Regions from separate parts of the Homo sapiens genome. Here region 1 is linked to region 2. Evidence: fine-mapped expression QTL. A gene starts in region 2. The other region holds a variant in brackets. All regions are shown on one strand. Distances are between the middles of the regions. Region 1 has its middle 15 kb from the start of HFE. Region 2 holds the start of TRIM38 (tripartite motif containing 38).

Region 1 (12,430 bases), 110 kb before region 2:
TCTACTGATGTTCAAGGATGGTCTTGGAAGTTGGGCCCACTAGAATTAACTGAGTCCAATACCTCTACTCAGTCACTTTCAACTGGGCTTTCTGATACCAGGAGCAAGGTGGCAGGTTTTAGGGTGTTGCAAATTTCAATGGTTATGCAGGGATTTTCACATAGCAAACTTTGGTACTTGGTTAATCTAGCATTTGTTAGCCAATGATGTATTTATTAAAGTCACCACAGCATGGAGGGCCTTTAAGTTTAGGTTTTGTCCAAGAGTTAGCTTATCTGCCTCTTGTGCTAGCAGGGCTGTTGCTGCCAAGGCTCTTAAGCATGGAGGCCAACCCTTAGAAACTCCATCTAGTTGTTTGGAGGCCCAGCCTCGGCCAGGGCCCCACAGTCTGGGTCAAAACTCCAACCGCCATTTTTTCTCTTTCTGACACATAGAGTGTAAAGGGTTTTGTCAGGTCAGGTAGCCCCAGGGCTGGGGCCGACATGAGTTTTTCTTTTAACTCATGAAAAACTCATTGCTGTTGGTTGTAATAGATGTAGTTTATCCAATCTACATTTTTATTAACTGTCACCCACCAAAATATTGACTCAAATCCTGCAGCTATTTGATTTTGGGATTTAAATTGATCTGCTATTCCCTGTGGGACTCCAATTGCATCTAAATAGATGTGAGAGTTGAAAGACACATAAGGGTCTTCTCTTGCTTTACGATGTCTTATTTTTCCTCCCTCTGGTTGATGAAATGCTAGGGTGAAAGGGATAGCCAATTGGACTAAAGTACAAGTGCCGCTCCAGTTATTTGGCAGAGTGCCCAGTAAAGGTCCACCACAATACCACCACACATCCGCTTGGGGATGAACAAAGGCTGACTGATTGAGAAGCTCCTGAAAATTCTTAAGCTCACTGCATCCCTTCAGGTCTCCAAGGAATGCTAAGTTTCCTCCCTGTCATGAGAGACAAGAAGTGAACTTAGTTTTGGGAGATGGAAGCTGGATGGCCCTCAGGGGTTGACCTGCAGGGTGCTGGACTTTGGGATATAGCAGAGAGAGCTTGGCACGACTTATTACTCCAGGCTGTAGAATCCTGGAAAACAGTTACCATGCAGCCCATGCCTGGTCAACAGGAGGACCACCTTAGTGGAAAGGGGATAATCTGGCCCTCTGGCCTGCCATGTGCACAAGCATAACAATTGGTTTTGTTTAATGTGTGGACAGAATATTTGATCCATTCCAACTGGGCATTTGCATCTTGGTATCCTGCTTAATTATCAAAGTTTGTTTTAAGTCTTTAACTTCTATGACCCTCTAGTAAAATGAATGTATGATTTTAGGAAATTACAAAAACCGGTTGGGGCAGTCCATCCTTGCTCTTTAGTGGTCCACACAACATTCGACCAACTATGGCATAAAAGCTCTACATCGGGGGGCAAGACTCCTCGTTGACACTGGGGTCTTTATTGAAATCTCTCTGGAATAAATGGTCTCAGTTTACTAAGGCTCAGTCTGAGGAGAGTCAGGAGGGACAGAGGTACTTTTCTGAAGTACAGAGATGTCTTCGACTTGGCAAGTCCCCACAGGGTATAACAAGGCAAGCATTAAATTCAATAGTTTGAGGCAAAATTGACTTGGTTATGTTAATAACTAGATGGTCAGAAATAGAGTGAGGGAAGAAGAAAGAGTAATAGAATAGATGAAGGAGTTAAATTTTTCTTAGCTTTAGTTTGGTAGGGTTTTCCCCTGGGACTATGGCCCATGACTCTGGAGGGGGTGGCACTTTCTTGACTCGGGTGTGATGAGTCCATCCCTTTTTCACCGTATGAACAACAGTCTCGGTGGTTAGCAGCACAAGGTAGGGTCCTTCCTAGGCTGGCTCAAGTTTTCCTTCTTTCCACCCTTTGATGAGAACATGATCTTCAGGCTGGTGCTGGTTTACAGAAAATTCTAGGGGTGGTACATGTGCTAAAAGACTTTTAGTTTTGAGGGAAAGGAAAGTGGAAGATAAACCAAGTATATAACTTTTAAGAAGTTGACCTTTTGTTTTAAATGTGGGGACATCAGCAGTGGACTTTATAGTCCTTGGTGCCTTCTTACTGAGAAATTTCCTTTAGCACCTATTTTTATTAGTTTTTAGACCAAAGAAAGTCAAATGCCATTTTATATTTGACAACGCTTCTTGTATGTTTATACCAGATAAGCTAGATTTCACCTTTATATTGGTGTGTTATTAATGTTAAACTTAGTTTTAATAAAACTCTGTAGACATATTTATTTGATTTTTAATGTCTGACCATAAGGTAAGATTTTTATAGACTTTTCTTTAACCTTTTATAATTTTTGTTAAAGAACAGGTTAGTGCTTTAAGAAAAACCCGTTGTGTTTTTATTTTAATGTTCAGTTCACAGAAAAACTGTATGATACCCCTTAACTTTAGCCAATATGTTTAGACACAGAATTTTCTTTACAATTAAGGTTTCAAAACTTGCTTAAACCTTCAAAACAATTTTTGTAACCTTTTAATGTAGGTAAAAATCCACATTCTTATGCATCCTCATAATCCTTTTACCAAAGGTATATTTTACTTTCCTTACATACCTTGCACATAAACTGTTTATTCAATAGTTTTACATTTAGAAGGAGGCCTAATTACTTTTAAATTATACAACATTTCTTACATAAATTTATTTTTCTAACACACATTTTTTTCATGACTTTCACAGACAATTCTTCGACATGCCTCAACTTTCTGACTTATTGCAAACATCCCTTTCTTTAAACAACTAGTTAATTTATCTCAGGACAAGGATTTTCCATACAACATTCTTTTTTATATAAATTCTGCCTCCTCTTTATTTCCTTTTTTTTTTTTCCGAGGATGATAACCATTCTTTTCCAAAGCGAACTTCTTTTATGTCTGTGGACTAGACTGTCTAAGGCCACAAGATTAGAAGTTACTATAATACATGTTACACTGTTAACTTTTAGCAAACTTTACTTTTGTTGAAAACCTTGTAAGTTTGGGATTTCAATTATCCTTTGCTATTAATAAGACCTTATTTAGTCCAAATTAACTTAGAATTGGTATAGATGGCTTTTTTTTTTTTTTAATTACCTGGGAGGAACCATCTATCCTCCTGTCCTGAAGGGAGTTCCTCCTAGGTCTGGTCAGAGCTTTGTATGGTAATTAAGATTTAGATCCCCTGTTAGGAAACCTGCCGGGTTAAGAGAATTTTCAGTGGTTAATGTTAAATCATCTTCTTTTTTCTTTTTTCCTTAGGATACTTCTGAACCGGTGAGGTGTGCTCACAATGAGGTTTCCTGTAAAAGTTATTTTTTTACTTTCTTCTGTTAGCAAAGCAGTTGCCGCTACAGATTGAATGCATTTGGGCCATCCGCGGGTTACTGGGTTAAGGATTTTTGATAGGAAGGCCTTAATGCTTTTGGAATATGCCCTGACAACAAAGTGCCAGTTCCTTCCCGGTGTTCAGCCACTGCGTTGATCCTCCACGAGGGCCTGCCACGTGCTGCTCTGGTGAGGCGTTCCACCGGGGCAATTGCCTACCTGGGAGCGCTCTCCAGATCTGTGTCGCTCAAACTGGCTGGAGTTCCCCGTAGGGATGCTCCACAGGGCAGGCCTAAGTCGCCTAAGGGGCTGCCTTGACCGTCCGTTAATCACCTCTGTCTCCAAAAACCAGCTCCCTGAGTGAGCAATTCCTGTCCCTTTTAAGGGCTTACAACTCTAAGGGGGTCTGCATGAGAGGGTCGTGATTGATTGAGCAAGCAGCGGGTACGTGACTGGGGCTGCATGCATCAGTAATCAGAACAGAACAGAACAGCACAGGGATTTTCACAATGCTTTTCCATACAATGTCTGGAATCTATAGATAACATAACCTGTTAGGTCAAAGGTCGATCTTTAACCAGACCCAGGGTGCGGTGCCGGGCTGTTTGCCTGTGGATTTCATTTCTCCCTTTTAATTTTTACTTTTTCTTTCTTTGGAGGCAGAAATTGGGCATAAGACAATATGAGGGGTGGTCTCCTCCCTTAATTTAAACAAAATTTTCAAAGTCCTACCCCAAGTAAATTGGCAAATATTAATAAAGTTATGGCATAGAAAATAAAAATGATTGTAAAAGGCGTAAAGATATTTCTGTGGGGAAAACATTTGTTCATTAGTTATCAGTTAAAATTCTGTGAAAAATAACCACTAGAGACCCTAAAGTACCCAGGGGCTAATAATAAGAAGGGAGGAACACCCTCTCACTCCCCACCGTTACCTGCCCAGAAGGGAAGAGGAAGAGGGTGACTCCAGGAGAGCTGTGGTCTCCCCTCCCCATATGTCCACATATACCTGACCTCCCCTCCCCAAAATATATACCCAATATCTCTCCCATATATACATATTTATCTGACCTCTCCACATATGTATACCTAAACTTTCTCTATATATCCACATATACCTAACCCTCTCACACACATATAGCTGACCTCCAGTGGAGGAAAATGGGGAAGAGAGAAGAAGTTATCAAAGGATAAATCTAGGTCATACTCAGAAATGTGAAAAACAAAAACCACACACAGAAAAAAAAAACACACACAAAAAAGAAATTGATAAATTTGTTTGTGTCAAAATTAAGAATTCCGGTTCAATGAAGGATCCCATGGATAAAGTTAAGACACTGCTGTAAGGATGGTAGAGAATTAAATGTCTGAATCAGACGAAAGGATGAGTAATTAGAATGCACAAGGCCAAGAAGAACAAAACAGAAACTCCACATAAAAAATGTATGAGGCCGGGCGCGGTGGCTCATGCCAGTAATCCCAGCGCTTTGGGAGGCCAGGGCGGGCCGATCAGGAGTTTGAGACCAGGCTGGCCAACATTGTGAAACCCCATCTCTACAAAAAATACAAAAAATTAGCCGGGCGTGGTGGTGGGTGCCTATAATCCCAGCTACTTGGGAGGCTGAGGCAGGAGAATCACTTAAACTCAGGAGGCAGAGGTTGCAGTGAGCTGAGATCACACCATTGCACTCCAGCCTGGGTGACAGTGTGAGACTCTGTCTCAAAAAAAAAAAAAATTATATATATATATATATATATATATATATATATATATATATATGAAATAAATGAACAAGAAATTTAGATACAGGAAAATCCAAAGCACTTGGTAATGAAAGAAAGGTAAAGTGATGTGTCCTTTTGCATTTAAAAGAGAGCATTAACAAATTAGAGAGCTGAATAATGCTCAGTATTGGTGTGGATATGGAGACTCAGGAATCCTCATACACTGCTGATGGGAGTGCCCACTCCCTGGGAATATTTTCCAAATATCATCTCAAACATATCCCATAAAGGTGACAGGAAAGTGTGGGCTGACTGATATCCTTCACTGAGAGAGGTGGAGGTAAAATGAAGTCACTGCACAATATAGAGTTGGAAGCAATGGATTAGATGTCCACATAGTTACGTGGAAGAATCCGTAAGATACACACACACACACACACACACACAC[ACC/C]TTTGTGTATATTGTTCCTGGCAGGTAGGCATGGAGGTTTAGAGGCTTTCTACATCACACCTACTGCACACAGTAAATGGCCAGGCTGAGCACTGACTTCCATGAAGGGAGATTGAAGGTAAGAGATTGAAGATTGTTCCCTGGTCTGGGACCCTGCAACTGAATATGCAGAAAAAAGTACACCCCGCCACCCCGCTTCCCATCTTTCCTACCTGATTAGAATAGCTTTTTCAGAAAACGTTGGCCAGGGGTTGTGGCTCACACCTGTAATCCCAGCACTTTGGGAGGCTGAGGCGGGCAGATCATCTGAGGTCAGAAGTTCCAGACCAGCCTGGCCAACATGGCGAAACCCCATCTCTACTAAAAATATAAAAAATTAGCAGGGCATGGTGGCACACACCTGTCATCCCAGCTACTCGGGAGCCTGAGGCAGGAGACTCACTTGAAGCACAGTGATGGAGGTTGAAGTTAGCTGAGATCTTGCCACTGCACTCCAGCCTGGGCAACAGAGTGACACTTTGTCTCAACAACAACAACAAAACCCACCAAAACTTTAAATCTACCTATGGCCAAATGCCTGCTAAAATGAGCACCCAAGAAGCAGTGTTCAGGAAAGTCAGATGAATACCCTAAAATTAGATGCAATGTTGGCTGGTCACAGTGGCTCAGGCCCTGTAATCCCAATCCTTCTTGGGAGGCCGAGGCGACAGATCGCTTAAGCTCAGGAGATCGAGACCAGTCTGGACAACATGGTGAGACCGTGTCTCTACAAAAACGTACAAAAATGAGCTGGGAGTGGTGGCGCGCACCTGTAGTCCCAGCTACTCAGGAAGCTGAGGTGGGAGGATCTCTTGAACCCAGAAGGCGGAGACTGCAGTGAGCAGAGATCATGCCACTACACCCCAGCCTGGATGATAGAGCCAGACCCCCATCTCCAGAAAAAAAAAATAAAGAGAGAGAGAGATGCAATATTTAGGGTTCAACAAGACTGAATTTCTGACTCCTTTCCCTACCTCTCCAGCATGTTAGATTCTGGGTCCTTCATCCTAACCCCCTGTTCATGCCATAGCCACCCTGTGGTACCAACTTTGGAAGCCTGGATCTTCATCCCCTCATGATAATGAGTGTCCCATCAGGTCTCCATGCTCAGCTTGGCAAGAGTATCTGTCTTCTCCTCATGGGACGGTCACATTCACCCAGCACTGACAGGTTCCATTCCCACTAGGGTGGCACCCTATATGGTCTGAGTCCAGGCCTTCCTGGTCCCTCAGTAATCTCAGCATGGTAGCACAATCGAAAAGGGCTAGGCACGGCAGCACCATTTCCCACCAAGAGGTCTGATGGCTCATCACATAGACTGAAGGAGATTCTGAAGAGCAGAGGTGGAATGAAGAATGAATCGTGGGCTCTGCTCTTCCTAGGCCTGTCTTCCTCTCTCCCGAGATGTTAGCTAACTCATGAGAGCCAGAAACCAACTGCAGGCTGGCCTCAGGCACTTAGGTAGTGCTTCAGCCTCAGCAGTCCACATTCTAGGAACCCTCATAATATGGGTTGAAGTATGCATTCCCACAAAAATAAAGTTGTTGAAGTCCTAACCACCAGTACTGAAATGGGAAAAGTTCCCTTGTCCCGCTCGCATGGCATGTGATAGGAGTGTGGCTAATTTCTTCAGTGCCTGGCTGCTCAAACCTCTAGGGGAACATTAAGACGGGCAGGTTGTGGGTCTCCAACCCCATGACCCCACCACAGTGTCTAGGGTTGAATGTTTACAGCTCCTGAAGCCACAGTGGGTGTGTGTTACAGGGTGCTCTTTTAGTTTTGCCATTTATAGGCAGCTGGTGTTAACCAACTCAATTAGACCGTCTACCTTGTCCCAAGGACAGAAGAAGGCTTTCTGTATCCCAGGTTCTTGCCTTGGTGTACCGGAATAAATCAGACCACACCTGGGCTTAGAGAAAGAGTGCAAGGTTTTATTAAGTGGAGGTAGCTCTCAGCAGTTGGGCAAAGCCAAAAGTGGATGGAGTGGGAAAGTTTTCCCTTGGAGTCAGCCACTCAGTGGCCCAGGCTCTCCTCCAACCACCCCAGTCAAATTCCGCCTCATTTTGCCAGGCAAACGTTTGTTGTGTGCTCTTCTGCCAGTGTGCTCCCCTGGACGTCCAGCTATTCGTGTCTTGTGGCAGGCCAGGGGAGGTCTTGGGAAATGCAACATTTGGGCAGGAAAACAAAAATGCCTGTCCTCACCGTGGTCCCTGGGCACAGGCCTGGGGGTGGAGCCCTAGCCGGGGACCACGCCCTTCCCTTCCCCACTTCCATATCATTTAAAGGGACCATGCCCTTCCCTTCCCAGCACTTTCCCCCTCCTGTATCAGGACCTGTGAATGTGGCCTTATTTGGAAATAGGGTCTTTGCACTTCATCAGTTAAGATAAGAGTGGGCTCTAACCCAACATAAAGGGTGTCCTTATAAAAAGGAGAAATGTCATACACAGAGACTGACACCTATAGAGAGAAAATGTGGTGAGTAGACACAGGGAGAATCACCATTCAAGTCAAGCAATGAGTCTGGGGATACCAGAAGCTGGGAGAGAAACCTGGAACAGATTATCCCTCATTGCCTTCAGAAGGAATCAAACCTGATGATACTTTGATTTCAGACTTCCAGCTTCCAGGACTGTGTGACGATAAATATCTGTTGTTAAGCCAACGAGTTTGAGGTACTTTGTTACTGCAGCCCCAGAAAACTAATACAGTAGGTACTATGGACTGAATTGACTCCCCGTCGCAAAATTCATATGTTGAAACCCTAACCCCCAGTGTGATGGTACTTGGAGCTGGGGCGTTTGGGAAGTCATTATATTTAGACAAACTCATCAGGATGTGTCTCTCATGATGAAATTCATGCCCTTATTAAAAGAGACAACAGGCCAGGTGCAGTGGCTCATGCCTGTAATCCCAGCACTTTGGGAGGCTGAGGTGGATGGATCACCTGAGGTTGGGAGTTTGAGACCAGCCTGGCCAACATGGTAAAACCCCATGTCTACTAAAAATACAAAAATTGGCCAGGTGTGGTGGTGCACGCTTGTACTCCCAGCTACCTGGGAGGCTGAGGCAGGAGAATCCCTTGAAACCAGGAGGTGGAAGTTGCAGTGAGATCACACCACTGTACTCTAGCCTGGGTGATAGAGACTCCATCTCAAAAAAAAAAAAAAAAAAGACAATAGAGCCAGGTGCTGCAGCTGATGCCTGTAATTCCAACACTATGAGAGGCTGAAGCAGGAGGCTCGCTTTAGCCCAGGAGTTCAAGACCAGCTTGGACAAAATAGTGAGACCCCCAACTTCTAAAAATTTAAAAAATGAACTGGGTGTGGTGGTACACATCTGAGGCTCCAGCTACTCTGGAGGCTGAGGTGGGAGGATTGCTTGAGCCCAGGAGGAGGCTGCAGTGAGCCATTGCTGTCCAGCCTGGGCTACACGAGAACCTGTCTCGGGAAAAGGAGAAAACAGTGAGACCTCTTTTTCTCTCCTCCTTCTCTCCACTGCCTAAGCCCTACAAGCACAAAAAGGACACCACATGAGCACATAGTGAGAATGCTGCTGCCACCAACAAGTCAGGAAGAGAGCGTTCACCTAGAAACTGAATTGGCCAGCACCTGGATCTTGGACTTCTGAGCTTCCAGAACTGTGAGAAAGTTATTTTTTTTTTAGCGACTAAGTCTATAGTATTTTATTACAGCAGCTCAAGGTAACTAACATAGTAGAAGGGATGAATTATGGAGATCACAAGTCCACGCCTCCAGAAAAAGACTTCCCTAAAAATTAGTCTGAGCAAAATTCGAATGATGAATTATTTTTAAGAACTTTTAAGGGATCTGACAAGTTTGCAAGAGCTAGAGAATGCTTTACAACGTGATAATAGAATGCTCTGTGATGACAGAAATCTTTCCACACTGTTCAAAACTAGCTACTGGCCACTTGTGACTATTGTGCACTTGAAATGTGACTGGTGTCTGAGGAGCAGAATGTTTAATTTTACTTAATTTTAATTCATTACAATAGCTACATGTAGCTAGGGGCTACTGGATTGAACAGCACAGCTCGAGTCTTTTAGAGGGAGACAGGACTCACCAAGATGGATGCTGGTGGCCAAGCAGCAATGGCAGGTAGTACACACACAAGAGGCAGATGATACAACACATCCTTCCCAAACCTGGAGATAAGCTCACCCCACAATCCCGCCGCTGAAATAGAGTTGATGTTACCAATGTGCATTTTTATGTCCTTTTCCATACAGAAAGATCATTCAGCAAGTACTATGGTACTTAAAAAACAACATTCAATTCATTATTATGACAAAATTAAATTAATAGCTCTTCCTTAAACTTTTAAATTCAATTTACAATGCTTACTATTGGCATTTATTAATCTACCAATTTTTTCCCATAGAACCCATAGAACAAATAATCTACCAAATTTTTAACATTCATTTTTGGCAAGGCTTTTGCAATTTGACGAACTTTAAGAAGAAAACTTATAAATTGCAATTTTTAAATCTGACATACTGGACTTTTAAAGTATCCAATTGACTAATGAACAAAACTGCTCCAAATTTTTCAATTCTTAAAAATCTTAAGACAATACTTAATATGGCAAATCTTAACTTCTTAAACTTTGTAAGAATGCTAATCAACTTAGATTGGTATAAAGTTGAGTTAAAAATCACAGGATACATCATCTCAGCTATAAGTTTTCATGAGTTGAGTTTTTACAATCACTTGAAATGCTTAGAATAGGAAATACGTATAAATTATTTAACATAAAATATTGTTACAAAACCTCTGGAGTGTCAGTTTCTCTGGCCAGACTTTATGCTGCAGCACCTTTGCCTGAGTTCTTGTCCTGCATCCAGGAAGAATTAGGTACAGAGGCAAGAGTCAAGAAGATTAGTTTTCCAATAGTTCAGCTCACCTAGTTAACTCCTGTTCACAATCTTCAAAGTTATCAGAAACCTGCAATTGAGGGTTATAATCCATTCTTTGCAGAGTTTCAAAACAAGACAACATTTGTCTATGAATGTTAAAATGTCCTAGGGTAGTCACAGTCAAAAACACAATTGACAAAGAAATTTAGTCACCTCTGTGATTTACAATAGCCTAACACAATAACTCTAATTATAACTGATGACACAAACTCAGATATCAGAACTCTAGAAATCCCCTATAATTTTGGAACACACATTCACAGTTTTCACTGAAATATGACCTGAAGATCAAATATCACCTTATTTCAACAATCCTATATAACTAAACGTGTCAAATGATCCTGTTTACCTCTCCTTTGGATACTCCAGGGGCCCTCTGTAGCATCCAAAAGTTAGGGGTTAGCAAAGACAATTTTGAAGCTGTAAAGGCTCAAAACACTTAATGAACCTCTAGTCATATCTGTTCTCTACTCACTAAATGCTAGTAGCACCTCTCAGTTGTGGCTAAGCTGGGAGGATCTCTTGAGCCTAGAAGTTTGGGGACGCAGTGAGCTATGATTATGCCACTGCACTCCAGCCTGGGCAACAATGCAAAATCCTGTCTCAAAAACAAAAACAAAAAACAAATTGCCTATGCTGTGGTTATCTCACAATTAATAAAAAGGAAAAAAAAAGTATGCAGTCTTTGTAGGTCCTTGGGGTTTGTTGGAACTCAGAAAACAATACCCCAAAATAAAGACCGCAGAAGCCAAAGTTTTTCTCTGATCTTCTCCTGCCCTCCTGTCTCTGAGTCCCATTCTCCCCGGAGTCTAGCCATAGAAATGAGAATTCCTCTTCCTCAAGTTAGGTCATAGAAATCAAAACACCTTTTCCCCAGAGCCCAGCCATAAAACCTAAAAATATTACTCTAACTTTCCCTCTGTTTTTCTGTGTAAAAACTGGCCATAAAGAAATTATCTGAACTACCTTATTTGATCATAGATCACCAGACCGCATTCCAGAGAGGATCCAGAAGGAAGGAATGCTGCACAGAGAGGCGAAGAAGAATCTAGACAGACAGGCCTTGCTGGGTTTCCCTACTCTGTTTATTAGCAATCCTATTTCTACACGGCGGCCCATACTTTGTTGAATCTAAAAAATAAAAATGGACAATTTCCCCTGTACATGTTAATACACATTAATAAATTGGATATAAATTGGATAATTTATTAATATACACATTAATAAATTGGATGCAGCCGGGTGCAATGGCTCACGCCTGTAATCCCAGCACTTTGGGAGCTGAGGCGGGCAGACCACGAGGTCAAGACCACCCTAGCCGAAATGGTGAAACCCCGTCTCTATTAAAAATACAAAAGTTAGCTGGGCGTGGTGGCACATGCCTGTAGTCCCAGCTACTGGGGAGGCTGAGGCAGGAGAATTGCTTGAACTCGGGAGGCGGAGGTTGCAGTGAGCCGAGATTGCGCCACTGCACTCCAGCCTGGTGACAGAGTGAGACTCCGTCTAAAAATAATAATAATAATAATAATAATAATAATAATAATAATAAATTGGATGCATTTTATCCTATTAATCTTCCTCTTGTCGGTGGTTTTCAGCGACTCTTCAGAGGCCAAAGAGTAAGTTTTCCCTTAGCCCCTACAGGTTCTTATGTTTAATTTGTTACTCTCATTTAAGACATAATTAAAGTGGCTTCTCCATGAAGATTATTTCTGCATCCATTATTTGGTAAGATTGGCCGTTTTCTCCTTTGATCTCTACTTCACACTGACCCACATAAAACATCACTGCCTGTTTTTTTGTTGTTGTTGTTTGGAGACGGAGTCTTGCTCTGTTGCCCAGGCTGGAGTGCAGTGGTGTGATCTCCGCTCACTGCAAGCTCCGCCTCCCGGATTCACGCCATTCTCCTGCCTCAGCCTCCTGAGCAGCTGGGACTACAG
Region 2 (12,430 bases):
TCAGATTCTTACTTTCCATTTAGTTATTCGCATTGCTGTGGACAGCTTCTGCTCCGTACATCTGTCTTCAAGTTGCTTCAGTTTTGTCACAGCTTTCTGGAGCTTTTCCTGAAGGAAAAATTTGATAAGTGAAGCCTATTCAATTTGACTCTTCATTAGGGACCTAGGGGGAATCCCAATCTTCTAAGATATATTTGAATAATAGTGAATATTTATAGAGTCCTCATTGTTTTTTGCTAGAGAGCATGCTAAAGGCTATATGTGCAGGAACATACTGATCCCCTTGGCAACCCTGAATAGTTGGTAGGATTTTAAACTTCATTTCTGTGCTGTAGAAAATGAGACTAAGAAAGGGGTAAAATAACTTGCCCAAAGGGCTATGACTGCCAGGTGGTGGAGCAACAATTGCAATCTCATCTGCTGACCCAGAGCCTGAGCTATGTCCACCACTAGAGTCCTGCCAGGAAAAAGTTGGATATAGAACAAGGTAATCATCATCTAAAAGATTTTGTAAAACAACATGCTGAACCAAGCAAAACCAATACCAGTGTTTGGCACACATGAAATTTTGTGTCTTATGAGTCAGGAAAAATCAGGATGCCAGCTGGTTATTAGAAACAGTTCATGGAAGAGGGGAATTCTGGTATCTTTTGAACAATGGTATCATGAATCCAATTTAAAATGATTTAGTATTCATGTCAAGCTTTTAGCTTATTCTTCAAAACAGTTTCTCATATTTCTATTGAAAGTGATTTGAAGCTGACCCAAATTGCTAATTGTAGTCAATGCTGAAAGAATTGTCTCCTGTCCTCTGTAAACCCAACAAGTATACTCATTCATTCTCGAGTGTTCTCAGGAAAAGGTTCTATGTAACTGTTTTAGCAAAAGATGACATTGTCCTTACTATATGCCAAGTGCTATTCTATGCATTCTATATTTTAATGTCCTCAAAGCTTATAACCACCTCCTGTGTATGTGTTTTAGGGAGGGAGGACACTGCTATTATCCCCATTTACAGATGGAGAAACCAAGGTGTGAAGACATTAAGTAACGTGCCCAAAATTGCCCATCTAGTAAGTGACAAAACTCAATTTCAACATAAGCTGGTTCCTTTTCTTACTACTTGGTGGAAAAGTAATTCAAATGGGAATATGATCATCGCAGTTATTAGCTGCTCCATGGAGTTTAAGGAAGAGCTGCCATGAGCTGAGTGGTGGTCATGATTGACATGTCCTTAGAAGGACTTAGAGCCTTCATACAAGACCACCTCTGCCTCATGGAGGACAGAATAAGGAGCCTGACACTGGAGACAACATTTTCCTCAAATTTAGGCAGGACAGAGAAGGAAAAAGGACATCAGGACTATGCCCATTCCTCCATGCTGCCAACAGCAAAGTCCCACCTTCCTTAATATGCTTTCTGGCAAGAAATCTGGATGGTACACAAAACCTCTCCCTCTGCTTCACCTTCCACAACCAAGCATTTCCAAATCTTTGACTCTTCTTCCTGAATCGTGCTTAAAATCTGCCCTCTCCTCCCTTTCTTATACGGATAGTTTGAATTTTACTCCTTGATATTCCTTTTATCATAGACATGCCACAGTAGCTGGGCACAGTGGTTCATGCCTCTAATCCCAGCATTTTGGGAGGCTGAGATGGGAGGGAGACCAGGGGTTTGAGGCCAGTATAAGCAAGAAAGGCAGACCATGTCTCTACAAAAAATAAAAAAATTATCCAGGTATGGTGGGGCATCCCTGTAGTCCTAGCTACTTGGGAGGCTGAGGTGGGAGGATTGCTTGAGCCCCAGAAGGTTGAGGCTGCAGTGAGCCGAGATTGCACCATTGTACTCCAACCTGGGATACAGAGCAAGACCCTACCTCAGGAAAAAAAAAAAAAAAAAAAAAAAAAAGTAGAGGTACCAGAGTGATATTTTCAATGTCACTGACCCTTCATTCCCCAAATGAAAATCCCCCAATAGGTGTTCAATTTTTACGTGTCCTTCAGGAGTTACTTCTAAGATGAACCACTCTCTACCCTAAATGTCCCTCCCCACCACCAAAACCAGGGACCTCCAGGCAGACATTTTTGATGGTTTGTTTTCTTTACTAGACTGTAGATACCTAAAAGGTGATGGGTCTTTCTTCCCTGTTTTCAGGCCCTACTGCATGGCTTTACATATTGTGGTTTTTCAAATGATATTCATGGTGTGAAACAAGAAAAAATGCGGGTGTTTGGTTTGAGAACAACCTGTTCTAAAGCAAAAAGAAATTCATCATAACACAAATGGATAGAGATAAGAGTCCAACCATCCCATTGAAGGTCAGGATGGACAGTCTAGATAATTGAGCAAGAAATCATCATAAACTATTTTTCAGAAGAATGACATGATGAAAGCTGTATTTCCAAGTCATAATGTTAGGTTTCAAGTTAAATCATCTCAGCTCCTGGGGAGCAGGATAAGACTTGGTACTTACCAAAGCTCCCGGGCCCACACACTCACCTTGTAGCCCTGGCATACGTCTTCAACAAGAGCTGTGGTGTGCCCTTTGTGCTGTGGTGCCCGCTCACAGCGCCAGCAGATGAGCTGCCCCTCGTCTTCGCAGAACAGGTGGAACTGCTCTCCGTGTTCCTCACATGACATTTCTTGATCCGTCTCTTTGAGGGCTTCAATGAGGCTTCCCAGCTGCTTGTTGGGTCGGAGGCTATCCATATGAAATGGAGCCCGACACTGGGGACAGCAGAATGTCTCCTGCCTCAGTTGCTTTTGGCTTGGGTTTTTAAAGAAGTCTGTTATACACAAGTGGCAGTAGCTGTGTCCACAGTTGATGCTTACTGGGTTCGTCATCAGGCTCAGGCAGATGGAGCAGGTGGCTTCCTCCATCATCTTCTTGGTGCTGGTGGTTGAGGCCATAGCTTTTATTGAAAAGCTCCAATATTGGCTCTAGAGATGGAGATGAAGCAGCCAGAATTTTCCACCGTGATGAAAATACACCTCACCTGCACCTCTATGTGATGAGCTGGCTGCAACTGACTTCCATAGGTCTTGAAGGTTTTCCTTCCAACCCCTATTATCTCATTTTGTATTGAAGAAAAGAGGACCTAAAAGGAAGAAGTTGAGGCTGAGGTTGTTTGGGCCACGTTTGAGAACTGCAACCCAAGTGCAGAGTTTCAAGTTGCCCTCATTAGCAAGCAGTTACAAGTGGTTGTTTAGAGGAAAAAAAGCAGTTTTAAAGCAGTTTTAAAGTTGTTTGCCAAGAATTTACATTAAAATAGCATAAGCTTTTGACTGGCTATACATTGTTCTTTGTATTACAAATCTCGGGAATATGTAGGTAATAGATGAGGCAGCCAGTCAGGAACAAAATGCTTTTAAACATGGGGTCTTAACTGAAGACCTATACTCCTGCCTCACTTGTCCTGATAAATTTTGCATACCTCACATAGCTCAGACTGCTCTAAATTATTTCATTATTTTTCTTTTCTCAGTCTTCTAACTTTTTTTTTTTTTTTTAATGAGACGGAGTCTCACTCTGTCACCCAGGCTGGAGTGCAGTGACGCTATCTCGGCTCACTGCACCTCCGCCTCCCGGGTTCAAGCGATTCTCCTGCCTCAGCCTCCCGAGTAGTAGCTGGGTCTACAGGTGTGCACCACTACGCCCAGCTAATTTTTGTATTTTTAGTAGAGATGGGGTTTCACCATGTTGGTTGGCTCGATCTCTTGACCTTGTGATCCACCCGCCTCAGCCTCCCAAAGTGCCAGGATTACAGGCATGAGCCACCGTGCCCAGCCTCTTTTTCTTTTCTTATAAGACAAGTTCTCGCTCTCTTGCCCAGGCTGTAGTGGAGGGCAGTGGCATGACCACAGCTCACTGCAGCCTCGACCTCCTGGGTTTAAGCAATCCTCCTGCCTCACCCTGGCAGAGTGGCTGGGACTACAGGTATGTGCCACCATGTCCAGCTAAAGTCTTCTCTCCAGAAAGAAGAAATGCATTGGAATTTAGAGGATACACAAACATCTAGCTGTATAGCTAATACAGTAGCCACTATCATGAGTAGGAATTTAAATTTAACTTAATAAAAATTAAAATGAAAAAATTCAGTTTTTCTGTTCCAGTTGCCACATTTTGATTGCTTAATAGTTGCATGTGACTAGTGGCTACATAACAGCCTCAATATACAACATTCTGTTATCACAGAAAGTTACCTTGGACCAAGTGCTGGGAGAAGCAATGCAGGCTTCCTCACAAAAGCTGTAAAAGAGAGAACTCAGGGAGTGTGAAACTCTTTCCTATTCTAGTTAACTTCAAGAATAATTGTTACCAGGCCAGCACGGTGGCTCACGCCTGTAATCCTAGCACTTTGGGAAGCCGAGGCGGGCAGATCACCTGAGGTCAGGAGTTTGAGACCAGCCTGACCAACATGGCAAAACCTCATCTCTACTAAAAATACAAAAAGTTAGCTAGATGTGGTGGTGCACACCTGTAATCCCAGCTGCTCAGGAGGCTGAGGAAGGAGAATGACTTGAGCTCCGGAGGGGGAGGTTGCAGTGAGCCCAGATTACACCACTGCACTCCAGCCTGGGTGAAAGAGCGAGAATCTGTCTTAAAAAAAAAAAAAAGAATAATTGGTACCAGAATTACTCTTTGTAATTAGTAGTAACACTTATGCAATTGGGTGATCTGTGACAGATTCCATTGAAGGAGTATGGGGAGCTTCACCCCAATATATGACTCCCTGGTATAATGAGTATTTTGAATTAAAGGCCCTTAGAGATCAGCAGATGCTGGAAGAGACTTTTCCCCTATCTACATAAAGACCAGTCACACTAGACAAGAAGAACAATTGTTTTTCCTTCCAACCCCTATTATCTCATTTTGTACTGAAGAAAAGAGGACTAAGAATGTAACCAGACCTAATCAGACACTTTCACAAAATAATGTCTGTCTCTCAGGCTCATTCATTTTCCAAAGAGAACCATTTACAAGTTAAACTCTGTTCCTCCATTCATTCATCCTCCCAAATATTCATTTATTCTCCCTAGTAATCATTTACTGCCCCTCAAAGAATTACCTATATTCTCCTGATATCACCCTTCCCCTCTGAAATAAATATGTATACATGTATAAACGTTATACATACATATTTATACAGTATACATACATATTTATACATACATACATATGCATACATATTTATATTTATGTATTTATACATAAGTATTTATAAATAAGGCTATATAAGTATCTACCCCCATTGGCAGAGGGGGTAATCACTCTGTGATTCTAGCCCATGTACTTGTTAATAAATTTGTATGCCTTTTCTCCAATTAGCCTGCCTTTTGTGAGTCGATTTTTCAGTGAACTTCAGAAGGCAAAGGGGAAGTGTTCCCTTGGCTCCTACACCATCATGACAATAAAATTTGACTCCACCTCGACCCCCCCCATCCCCCACAAAGAACAACAACCAACACTGGTTAATAAGGTCGGTTGTTTTTTGTTTGTGTTTTTGTTGTTGTTGTTTTTGCTTTCAGGAGCAGAGGTATAATAGGCAAAAGAAAGAGAAAGGAGAATAGTGAATACCTCTTCTGCAGAGAGGGGTGCCTAAGTGGGACTTCCCTGGCTAATAACGTCTTGCTAGAGACCCAACCAGGAGGATAATGGAAGCAATCAAGGCAACCAGAACAACCAGAAGAACCGGTTTATCCTTTTTGTGCCCTCTCCCTAAACTGAGGGAATAAGAATTGGAAAGAAGGCTGCAGAGCAGAGGGTTTGCTCCTGAGGAGCAGTTATTTCTATGGGATCAGAGCTCCTGCAGAACTGGGGAGTTTACTTTTACTATCTCTTCTCCAGGACAGGACCTATCTCAAGAGACATGTTCAGAGTGATTGCAACATAAAGAGTTTGCAGACCCAAGGAGGTAGGGAAGGCAGAAAGAAGATGGGGGAGGCCAGGGATAGGCAACAGAGGAGTGACCAGGAGCGAAAAAGCCTGCCTCTTCTGAGAACCTAGCTGGGCTCTCCCTGTACCCCCGATCCCTCCCCCCCGCCCGCCCCCACACCCCTACTCCTGGGAGCTCCTCTAGGACAGGGGCAGAGTCAGGAGGAAGTTTGAAGAGTGCCTAGAATAAAAAACAGTAATTTAACTACAATTACCGGGTAGGCTGTTTTCCTCTCACAATTTGATCAGTCTCTTGAAGCCACACAGAATTTCTTCTGAAGACGTGTATTCCTTGGCAGGCTATTTCCTCCAGTGATACACCAGGCCCCTCTCTGCTGGGGTCACTGCTCTTCTGGGGAGATGGGGCTCCCCTCCTTCCAAGGCTCCAGGGTTCCTGTCCTGGGCCCCACTCATCTAAGTTCTGAATCTTCTGAGATTTGGTGTAAAGTCTGGTGAAAGAAAGAGCAGGAAAGAGGTGAGAGCTGTAAAACAAAGAAAGTCCTGACCATTTTCAGAGTTGGAGGGGCCCTGCTGTCACGAAATATATTCCCCACCCCACTTGCCATCAGTACACACTCACATATCCACTGAGAAAACCTTAGCCTGGACCTTTTCCGTAACCTTCACTGCTCAGACACTTACATATTCGCTGCTAGTCCCCTCTGTTGCTGCCACTTCCTGGGTCAGGAAGTTAACTCAGACCGGATTAAACTGAGAAGTGAAACTACTGTGGGAGGCGGGGCTCATAAGATTTAGGAGAAAACTAGTGACGTTGTTCATATCATTTGCACTCCGCCTCTCCGGTAAAGGAGGGGGAAACGTAGGAAGAAAATATCCTTCTTTTACAGCAATAAAAAGAAGGAACCAATTAATAACCCTGTAAACTATCATGTGACCCCAACACAGAGTATCTAAAAACAGGAAGCCTGCAGAGGTTCAGTTCACAGACTCTGATTTGAGATCTTTCTACTTTTGCCACCAACTCCCTTGGGAGTCCTTAAGCCTTCCTAGCTGATGTTACTTCTTTTGCTATTTATGGGTTGCTTGTGGTTCTATAACTGCTCTGAAGGGTGTGGTGGAAAAAGGGGTGGTAACAGCAGTAGGACTCATTGGCATCACAAAATTCATCTGAGTCAGCTTTCTATTCTTCTCTGTCCCGTTCTGTGTCTTGTTTTTCTCCTTGCTGTCCTTCTGCAGGACTCAGATCTTCTTCAATAGCGAGGGTCAGCCAGGATAGAAAATGGGAGTCACTAGTGGCCCAGCAGTGAGTGCCCCCAGCTTAGAGCTGTGTGGGATCCCTGGGACCATCACTCTGCTTTGTGCTTTGTGGAGAAAAGGCTGTGGGGTCCAGGGTCAAGTCCTTAATGACTTAGCTCCAGCTTCTCCACTTCAAAATGAAAGGAAAAGTACTATCACCACCCGTTAGAATTATTATTTCATGGGGAAAAAAGATGGATTACTATCTCACAATAAGAGCTTGTCACATTTATAAGTCTCAGGTGTAAGAGGCATTTATGATAACAACATAATAAATGCTGGCTTAAGTAGATGCAGTGGTCCAAGGGAACCAGTAAGGGGAGCTCAGGACACAGGTGGGAGGAGAAATTAAACTTGAATTCTGGGAGCCACTGGCCTGTCTGGGCCCCTGGCCTGCCTGCTGACCCTGATAGCCAATGGAACATGGAGTTTGGCCCAGCTGCAATCCCTCTGGTCCAACTACTCAAAATAAAGGCAAGATTGGGAAACACGTTCCTTTCTTCCTATACCAAGCAGAAGACTCTTCAGCACTGCACCCTCCTGGGTGCTCACAGAGCCTTCTGTTGTTTTGCCACCTACGATTCATCATGCCCTGGCATGATGGTTGCAGACCCCATGCATAGCATGGGACATTCTACTCCTGAGGCAACCAGCACACAGAGAGAGGAGAAAGAATGAGCCCCTGAATCCTTGGTCCCACGATGAGTCCTTGCAGATATCTACAACTTTCATTGTTGTGGATGTGACTCTGTACCCAGGCATGGCTCATTCCAGATCTGTCCTATTGTCAGAGGTGTTCAAACCAGAATGACTCCATTTTGAATGGGGGCTAGGTAAAATAAGGCTGAGACCTACTGGGCTGCATTCCCAGGAAGTTAGGCATTGTAAGTCACAGGATGAAATAGGCAGTTGGCACAAGACACAGGTCATAAAGATCTTGCTGATAAAACAGGTTGCAGTAAAGAAGCTGACCAAAACCCACCAAAATCAAGATGGCAACAAGAGTGGCCTCTAGTCATTCTCATTGCTCATTATACACGAATTATAATGTGTTAGCAAGTTAGAAGGCATTCCCACCAGCTCCATAGTGGTTTATAAATACCATGGCGATGTCAGGAAGCTACCCTATATAGTCTAAAAAGGGGAGGAACGCTTGGTTCTGGGAATTGCCCACATCTTTCCCAGAAAACATATGAATAATCCACTCCTTGTTTAGTACATAATCAAGAAATAACTGTAAGTATCTGTATTAGTCCATTTTCACACTGCTGATCCAGACATACCTGAGACTGAGTAATTTATACCAGGAAAAAATGTTTCATGCTCTTACAGTCCCACGTGTCTGGGGAGACCTCACAACCACAGCAGAAGGCAAGGAGGAGCAAGTCAGGTCTTACATGGATGGCAGCAGGCAAAGAGCTTGTGCAGGGAAATTCCTTTCTATAAAACCATCAGGTCTCATGAAACTTATTGACTATCATGAGAACAGCAGTATAAATTACTCAGGGAAAGACCTGCCCCCATGATTCAATTACCTCCCACCAGGTCCCTCCCACAATATGTGGGAATTTAAGATGAGAGTTAGGTGGGGACACAGCCAAACCATATCAGTATCCTTAGTCCAGAAGCTGATGCTCTGCCTGTAGAGTAGCCGTTCTTTTATTCCTTTACTTTCTTGCTTTCACTTTACTGTGTAGACTTGCCCCAAATTCTTTCTCACACGAGATCTAAGAACCTTCTCTTAGGGTCTGGGTTGGGACCCCCTTTCTGGTAACACTATCAAAGGATCAGGAAAAGGAAGCTAGTGAATGCTAAAAAGGAAACAAACTACCATTACCAATAATAACAGCAAGACAAAAGCAAAACGGATTGTGACAGCTGTCCCATCTCACACCTGTTTCCCATTGCAGGAAGGAGGGGCTGGTTCATGCACAGAGTGGCCAATATTAGAAGCAGAGATGGGGTGCAGATGAGACTTCAGGAATATGTTGACAAAGGCAGGCCTAGGGAGAAATCAACCTGAACTATCCCCAAGGAGGAATGCATTATCTCTAATATGTAAAGTTAGGCTTGATCCTGTGATTATGGGATATAGGAGTCCAAAGACTCACAATGGGAAGTAGGTCACTAGAGTCTCCTTCAGAAGCTCTGTACTGTGTGTTCCCACTGTGGGCAAGAGTCAGCACTCAGCTATTCCTAGAATGCCTTTCCTCAACTCCTTCAGATTTTGCCTCTCAACTAACCCTATCCTGACCACTTGTTAGCAAGTGTACCCCTCTCTCCCTCCCAAACATTTTCAAATCTATTTTGTTCCCATGGCACTTATCACTGAATATTTTACTAATTTATTTTGTTTAGTGTTTGCTTCCCTCATGAGAATGCAAAGGGATGGATTTTTTTCAATATTGTTCACTGATGAATCCCAGTAACTAGAATATTTCTAAGCATAGTGATGTGCATTAAATCAAAGAGTAACTTTCTGAATTGCACTAAACACACATCACAAGAGGTGTGTGCACATATGTGCATGATGCACGTAGTGTGGTGTGGGTGTTGTGTGGGGTATGTGGTACTGTGTGTGCTGTGTGTGGTATGTGATACATAGTTTGTGTTAGTGTGATGCATGTGATGTGGTATGTGTGTGCGTGTCCATACATATTAGGGGTGGCGGGGATGTTAATATGTCAAATGGTACTAGAAAGTATCAGAACTCATGGTGCTTACTGGTTTCCCAGAGAGCTGCTTCTCTCCCACCTGTAGGATATACTGATGGTTTGGACAGAGAAGAAATAAAAAGAAGGCTGTGACCTACTGGGCTGAGGAAATAAAAACGAAAGTAAAAGAAGAGCTGGGAAAAGAGAGTGGAGGGGCCAAGGGAAATTTCCCCTTTGGCTTCTGGGGAAACTTTGCTGAAAAATCAACTCACAAATTTATTAACATGTACACAGGGAGAACCATAGAATGATTATCCACTTCCCAAGAGGGCTTAAAAGCTTATATATTATCCTGGCAAAACAGATTATGGGAGGGGAAGAAGAGAAACTCTGTTGATGGGATTACTGTTGCGGATTTTTGCTCCTTCGCTCAGCTAGGTCCGGGTTTTTGTCTCACAGCCAGGAAGAATTAGGCATGCAGCCATCAAAGAATGAGTGGAGTAGAATTTATTAAGTGAAAGGAAAGCTCTCAGCAAAGACAAGGGTCCTGAAAGCAGATTTCTGGTTTGCTCTTCACAGTTGAATACTAGGGCTTAAGACTCAAATTCCTGACAACTCCACCCTGTCCTACCAGTGCATGCAGGCCTTTAGACTGAGCTACTCCATATTGATTAATTTCCTGAACTGTGCATGTGTTAAGGAAAGGAATCATCCACTGCAGGCATGTTTAGGCAAGCCCCCTGTGCAAGTTCCCTTATCTGCACAAAACATCCGGTGTAAGCACTTGTGGGGCAGGTCAGAGGTTCTCTGGGTACCATTCCCTTACTGTCTGCCTAAAGCAAGCTGGCCAACTCCTTTCATTACTAGGGAGAGTAAGTAGATCAGGGAACAGAGATTAACTTGAACATTATCTTGTGAAAGTCCGTTCGGGCATGGTTACATTCTTGGTCTTACAGGAAGGGTAAATAAAAATAATTGCTCTTTTTGGTGGGTCTGGATCTTAGGTAGATAAAGAAACTTTAATTCCACGATGTGTTTTGGTAGGGATAGTTGGTGGCAGGGATGTCAGAGAGACTTTGAGGCTTCTTCAGTTCAATATGACCAAGGGCCATATATTAGGGTATCAATTTCTGAGCCCCAACAAGAGCTTAGGAGAGATGTGATAGCATCACAGTGTGAAAGCAATTTTTTGTTTGTTTTTAGAGACAGGCTCTTGCACTGTCACCCTGGCTGAAGTACAATGGTACGATCACAGCTCACTGTAATCTTGAACTGGGTTCAAATGATCCTCCCATCTAAGCATTTCAAAGTGTTGGGATTACAGGCATGAGCCACGGTACCCAGCCTGAAACTGCACCCACTTTCTGATAAACTTTTCAAATGACTAAAGGGGAGAGAGTAAGCACTACTCAGAGGTAGGAAGAAAGGACACAGGATTATAGGATTAAAACAACAACCACCAAAAAAAACCAGACCGGTGTGGTGGCTCACACCTGTAATCACAGCACTTGGGGAGGCTGAGGTGGGGGGAGTCACTGGAGGCCAGGAGTTCGAGACGAGCCTGGCCAACATAGCAAGATGCTGTCTCTATTAAAAAAAAAAAATACCTGCCTTGAGCTAATCAGAATCATGGACCCTGACAAAGGATGTCCCAAAGTAAGTCTTAGCATTTTTTTTTTTTTTTTGAGACAGTCTCGCTGTGTTGCCCAGGCTGAAGTTCAGTGGCGTGATCTCGGCTCACTGCAACAGCTGCCTCCCAGGCTCAAGCAATTCTCCCTGCCTTCAGCCTCCCAAGTAGCTGGGATTACAGATGCCCACCACCACGCCTGGCTAATTTTTGTTTTTTTTAATAGAGATGGGGTTTTGCCATGTTAACCAGGCAGGTCTTGAACTCCTGACCTCAAGTGATCTGCCCACCTTGGCCCCTCCATAGTGCTGGGATTACAGGCGTGAGTCACTGCACCCGGCAAAGTCTTAGCATTCTTTACAAACAGTTTGTACCCGTATCTCTAAAAGGGAGTAGTGAATTTCACCCCAAAATGTGGCTTCCTGATATAATGAGTATTTTGAATGAAAAACTCTTAGAGATCAACAGACACTAAAGAGACTTTTCCCTAGGTACATAAAAATAGGATGGCCCCACCAGCGAGAACAATTGTTCTTTTCTCCCTCTCTGTTATCTCATTGTGCATTATAGGAAAGACCAAGAATGTAACCACACCTGAACAGACCCTTTTATAAGATAATCAGTCTCTAAGCATCATTTAAATTCCAAGGAGAACTATTTACAAATTTATCTGTTCTTTGATCCAATTAGTCTCTCCTGGTAGTTACATATTGCCCCTCAACAGAATTCCTCTTCTTCTGTTTCCCATAACCTATTTTGCAAGGATCAAGCCCCTGTTATTTCTTCAACTTCAAGGTGGCATATAAGCTTCTAAATTCCACTGGGATATTGGTACTATGTGCATGAGGAGAACCACAGAGTAATTAAATTGTAAAGCCTTTTATCTTATGAATCTGCCTTTTTTTGTGTTCATTTTTCAGCAAAACTTCCAAGGGCAAAGGTATAAAACAAAAATAA

Evidence for each region. PIP is the estimated chance that this variant, and not a neighbour inherited with it, causes the effect.
Region 1: its variant is fine-mapped to the expression of TRIM38 in whole blood (INTERVAL, PIP above 0.99).

Annotation. Positions count from the first base shown.
Region 1 is chr6:26,066,653-26,079,082 of GRCh38, reverse strand. No RefSeq gene overlaps it. Among named protein-coding and RNA genes, the nearest start is that of HFE, 15 kb to the left of the region's middle. RefSeq lists enhancers at 3,072-3,572, 3,573-4,073, 11,971-12,430. The variant ACC/C (reference allele first, on the strand shown) is at 5,512.
Region 2 is chr6:25,957,003-25,969,432 of GRCh38, reverse strand. It overlaps TRIM38 (tripartite motif containing 38), which reads right to left and starts at 6,631. Exons shown (of 8, transcript NM_006355.5): 1 at 6,578-6,631; 2 at 6,151-6,384; 3 at 2,500-3,098; 4 at 13-108. The coding sequence starts at 2,910. RefSeq lists a cis regulatory region at 10,459-10,763.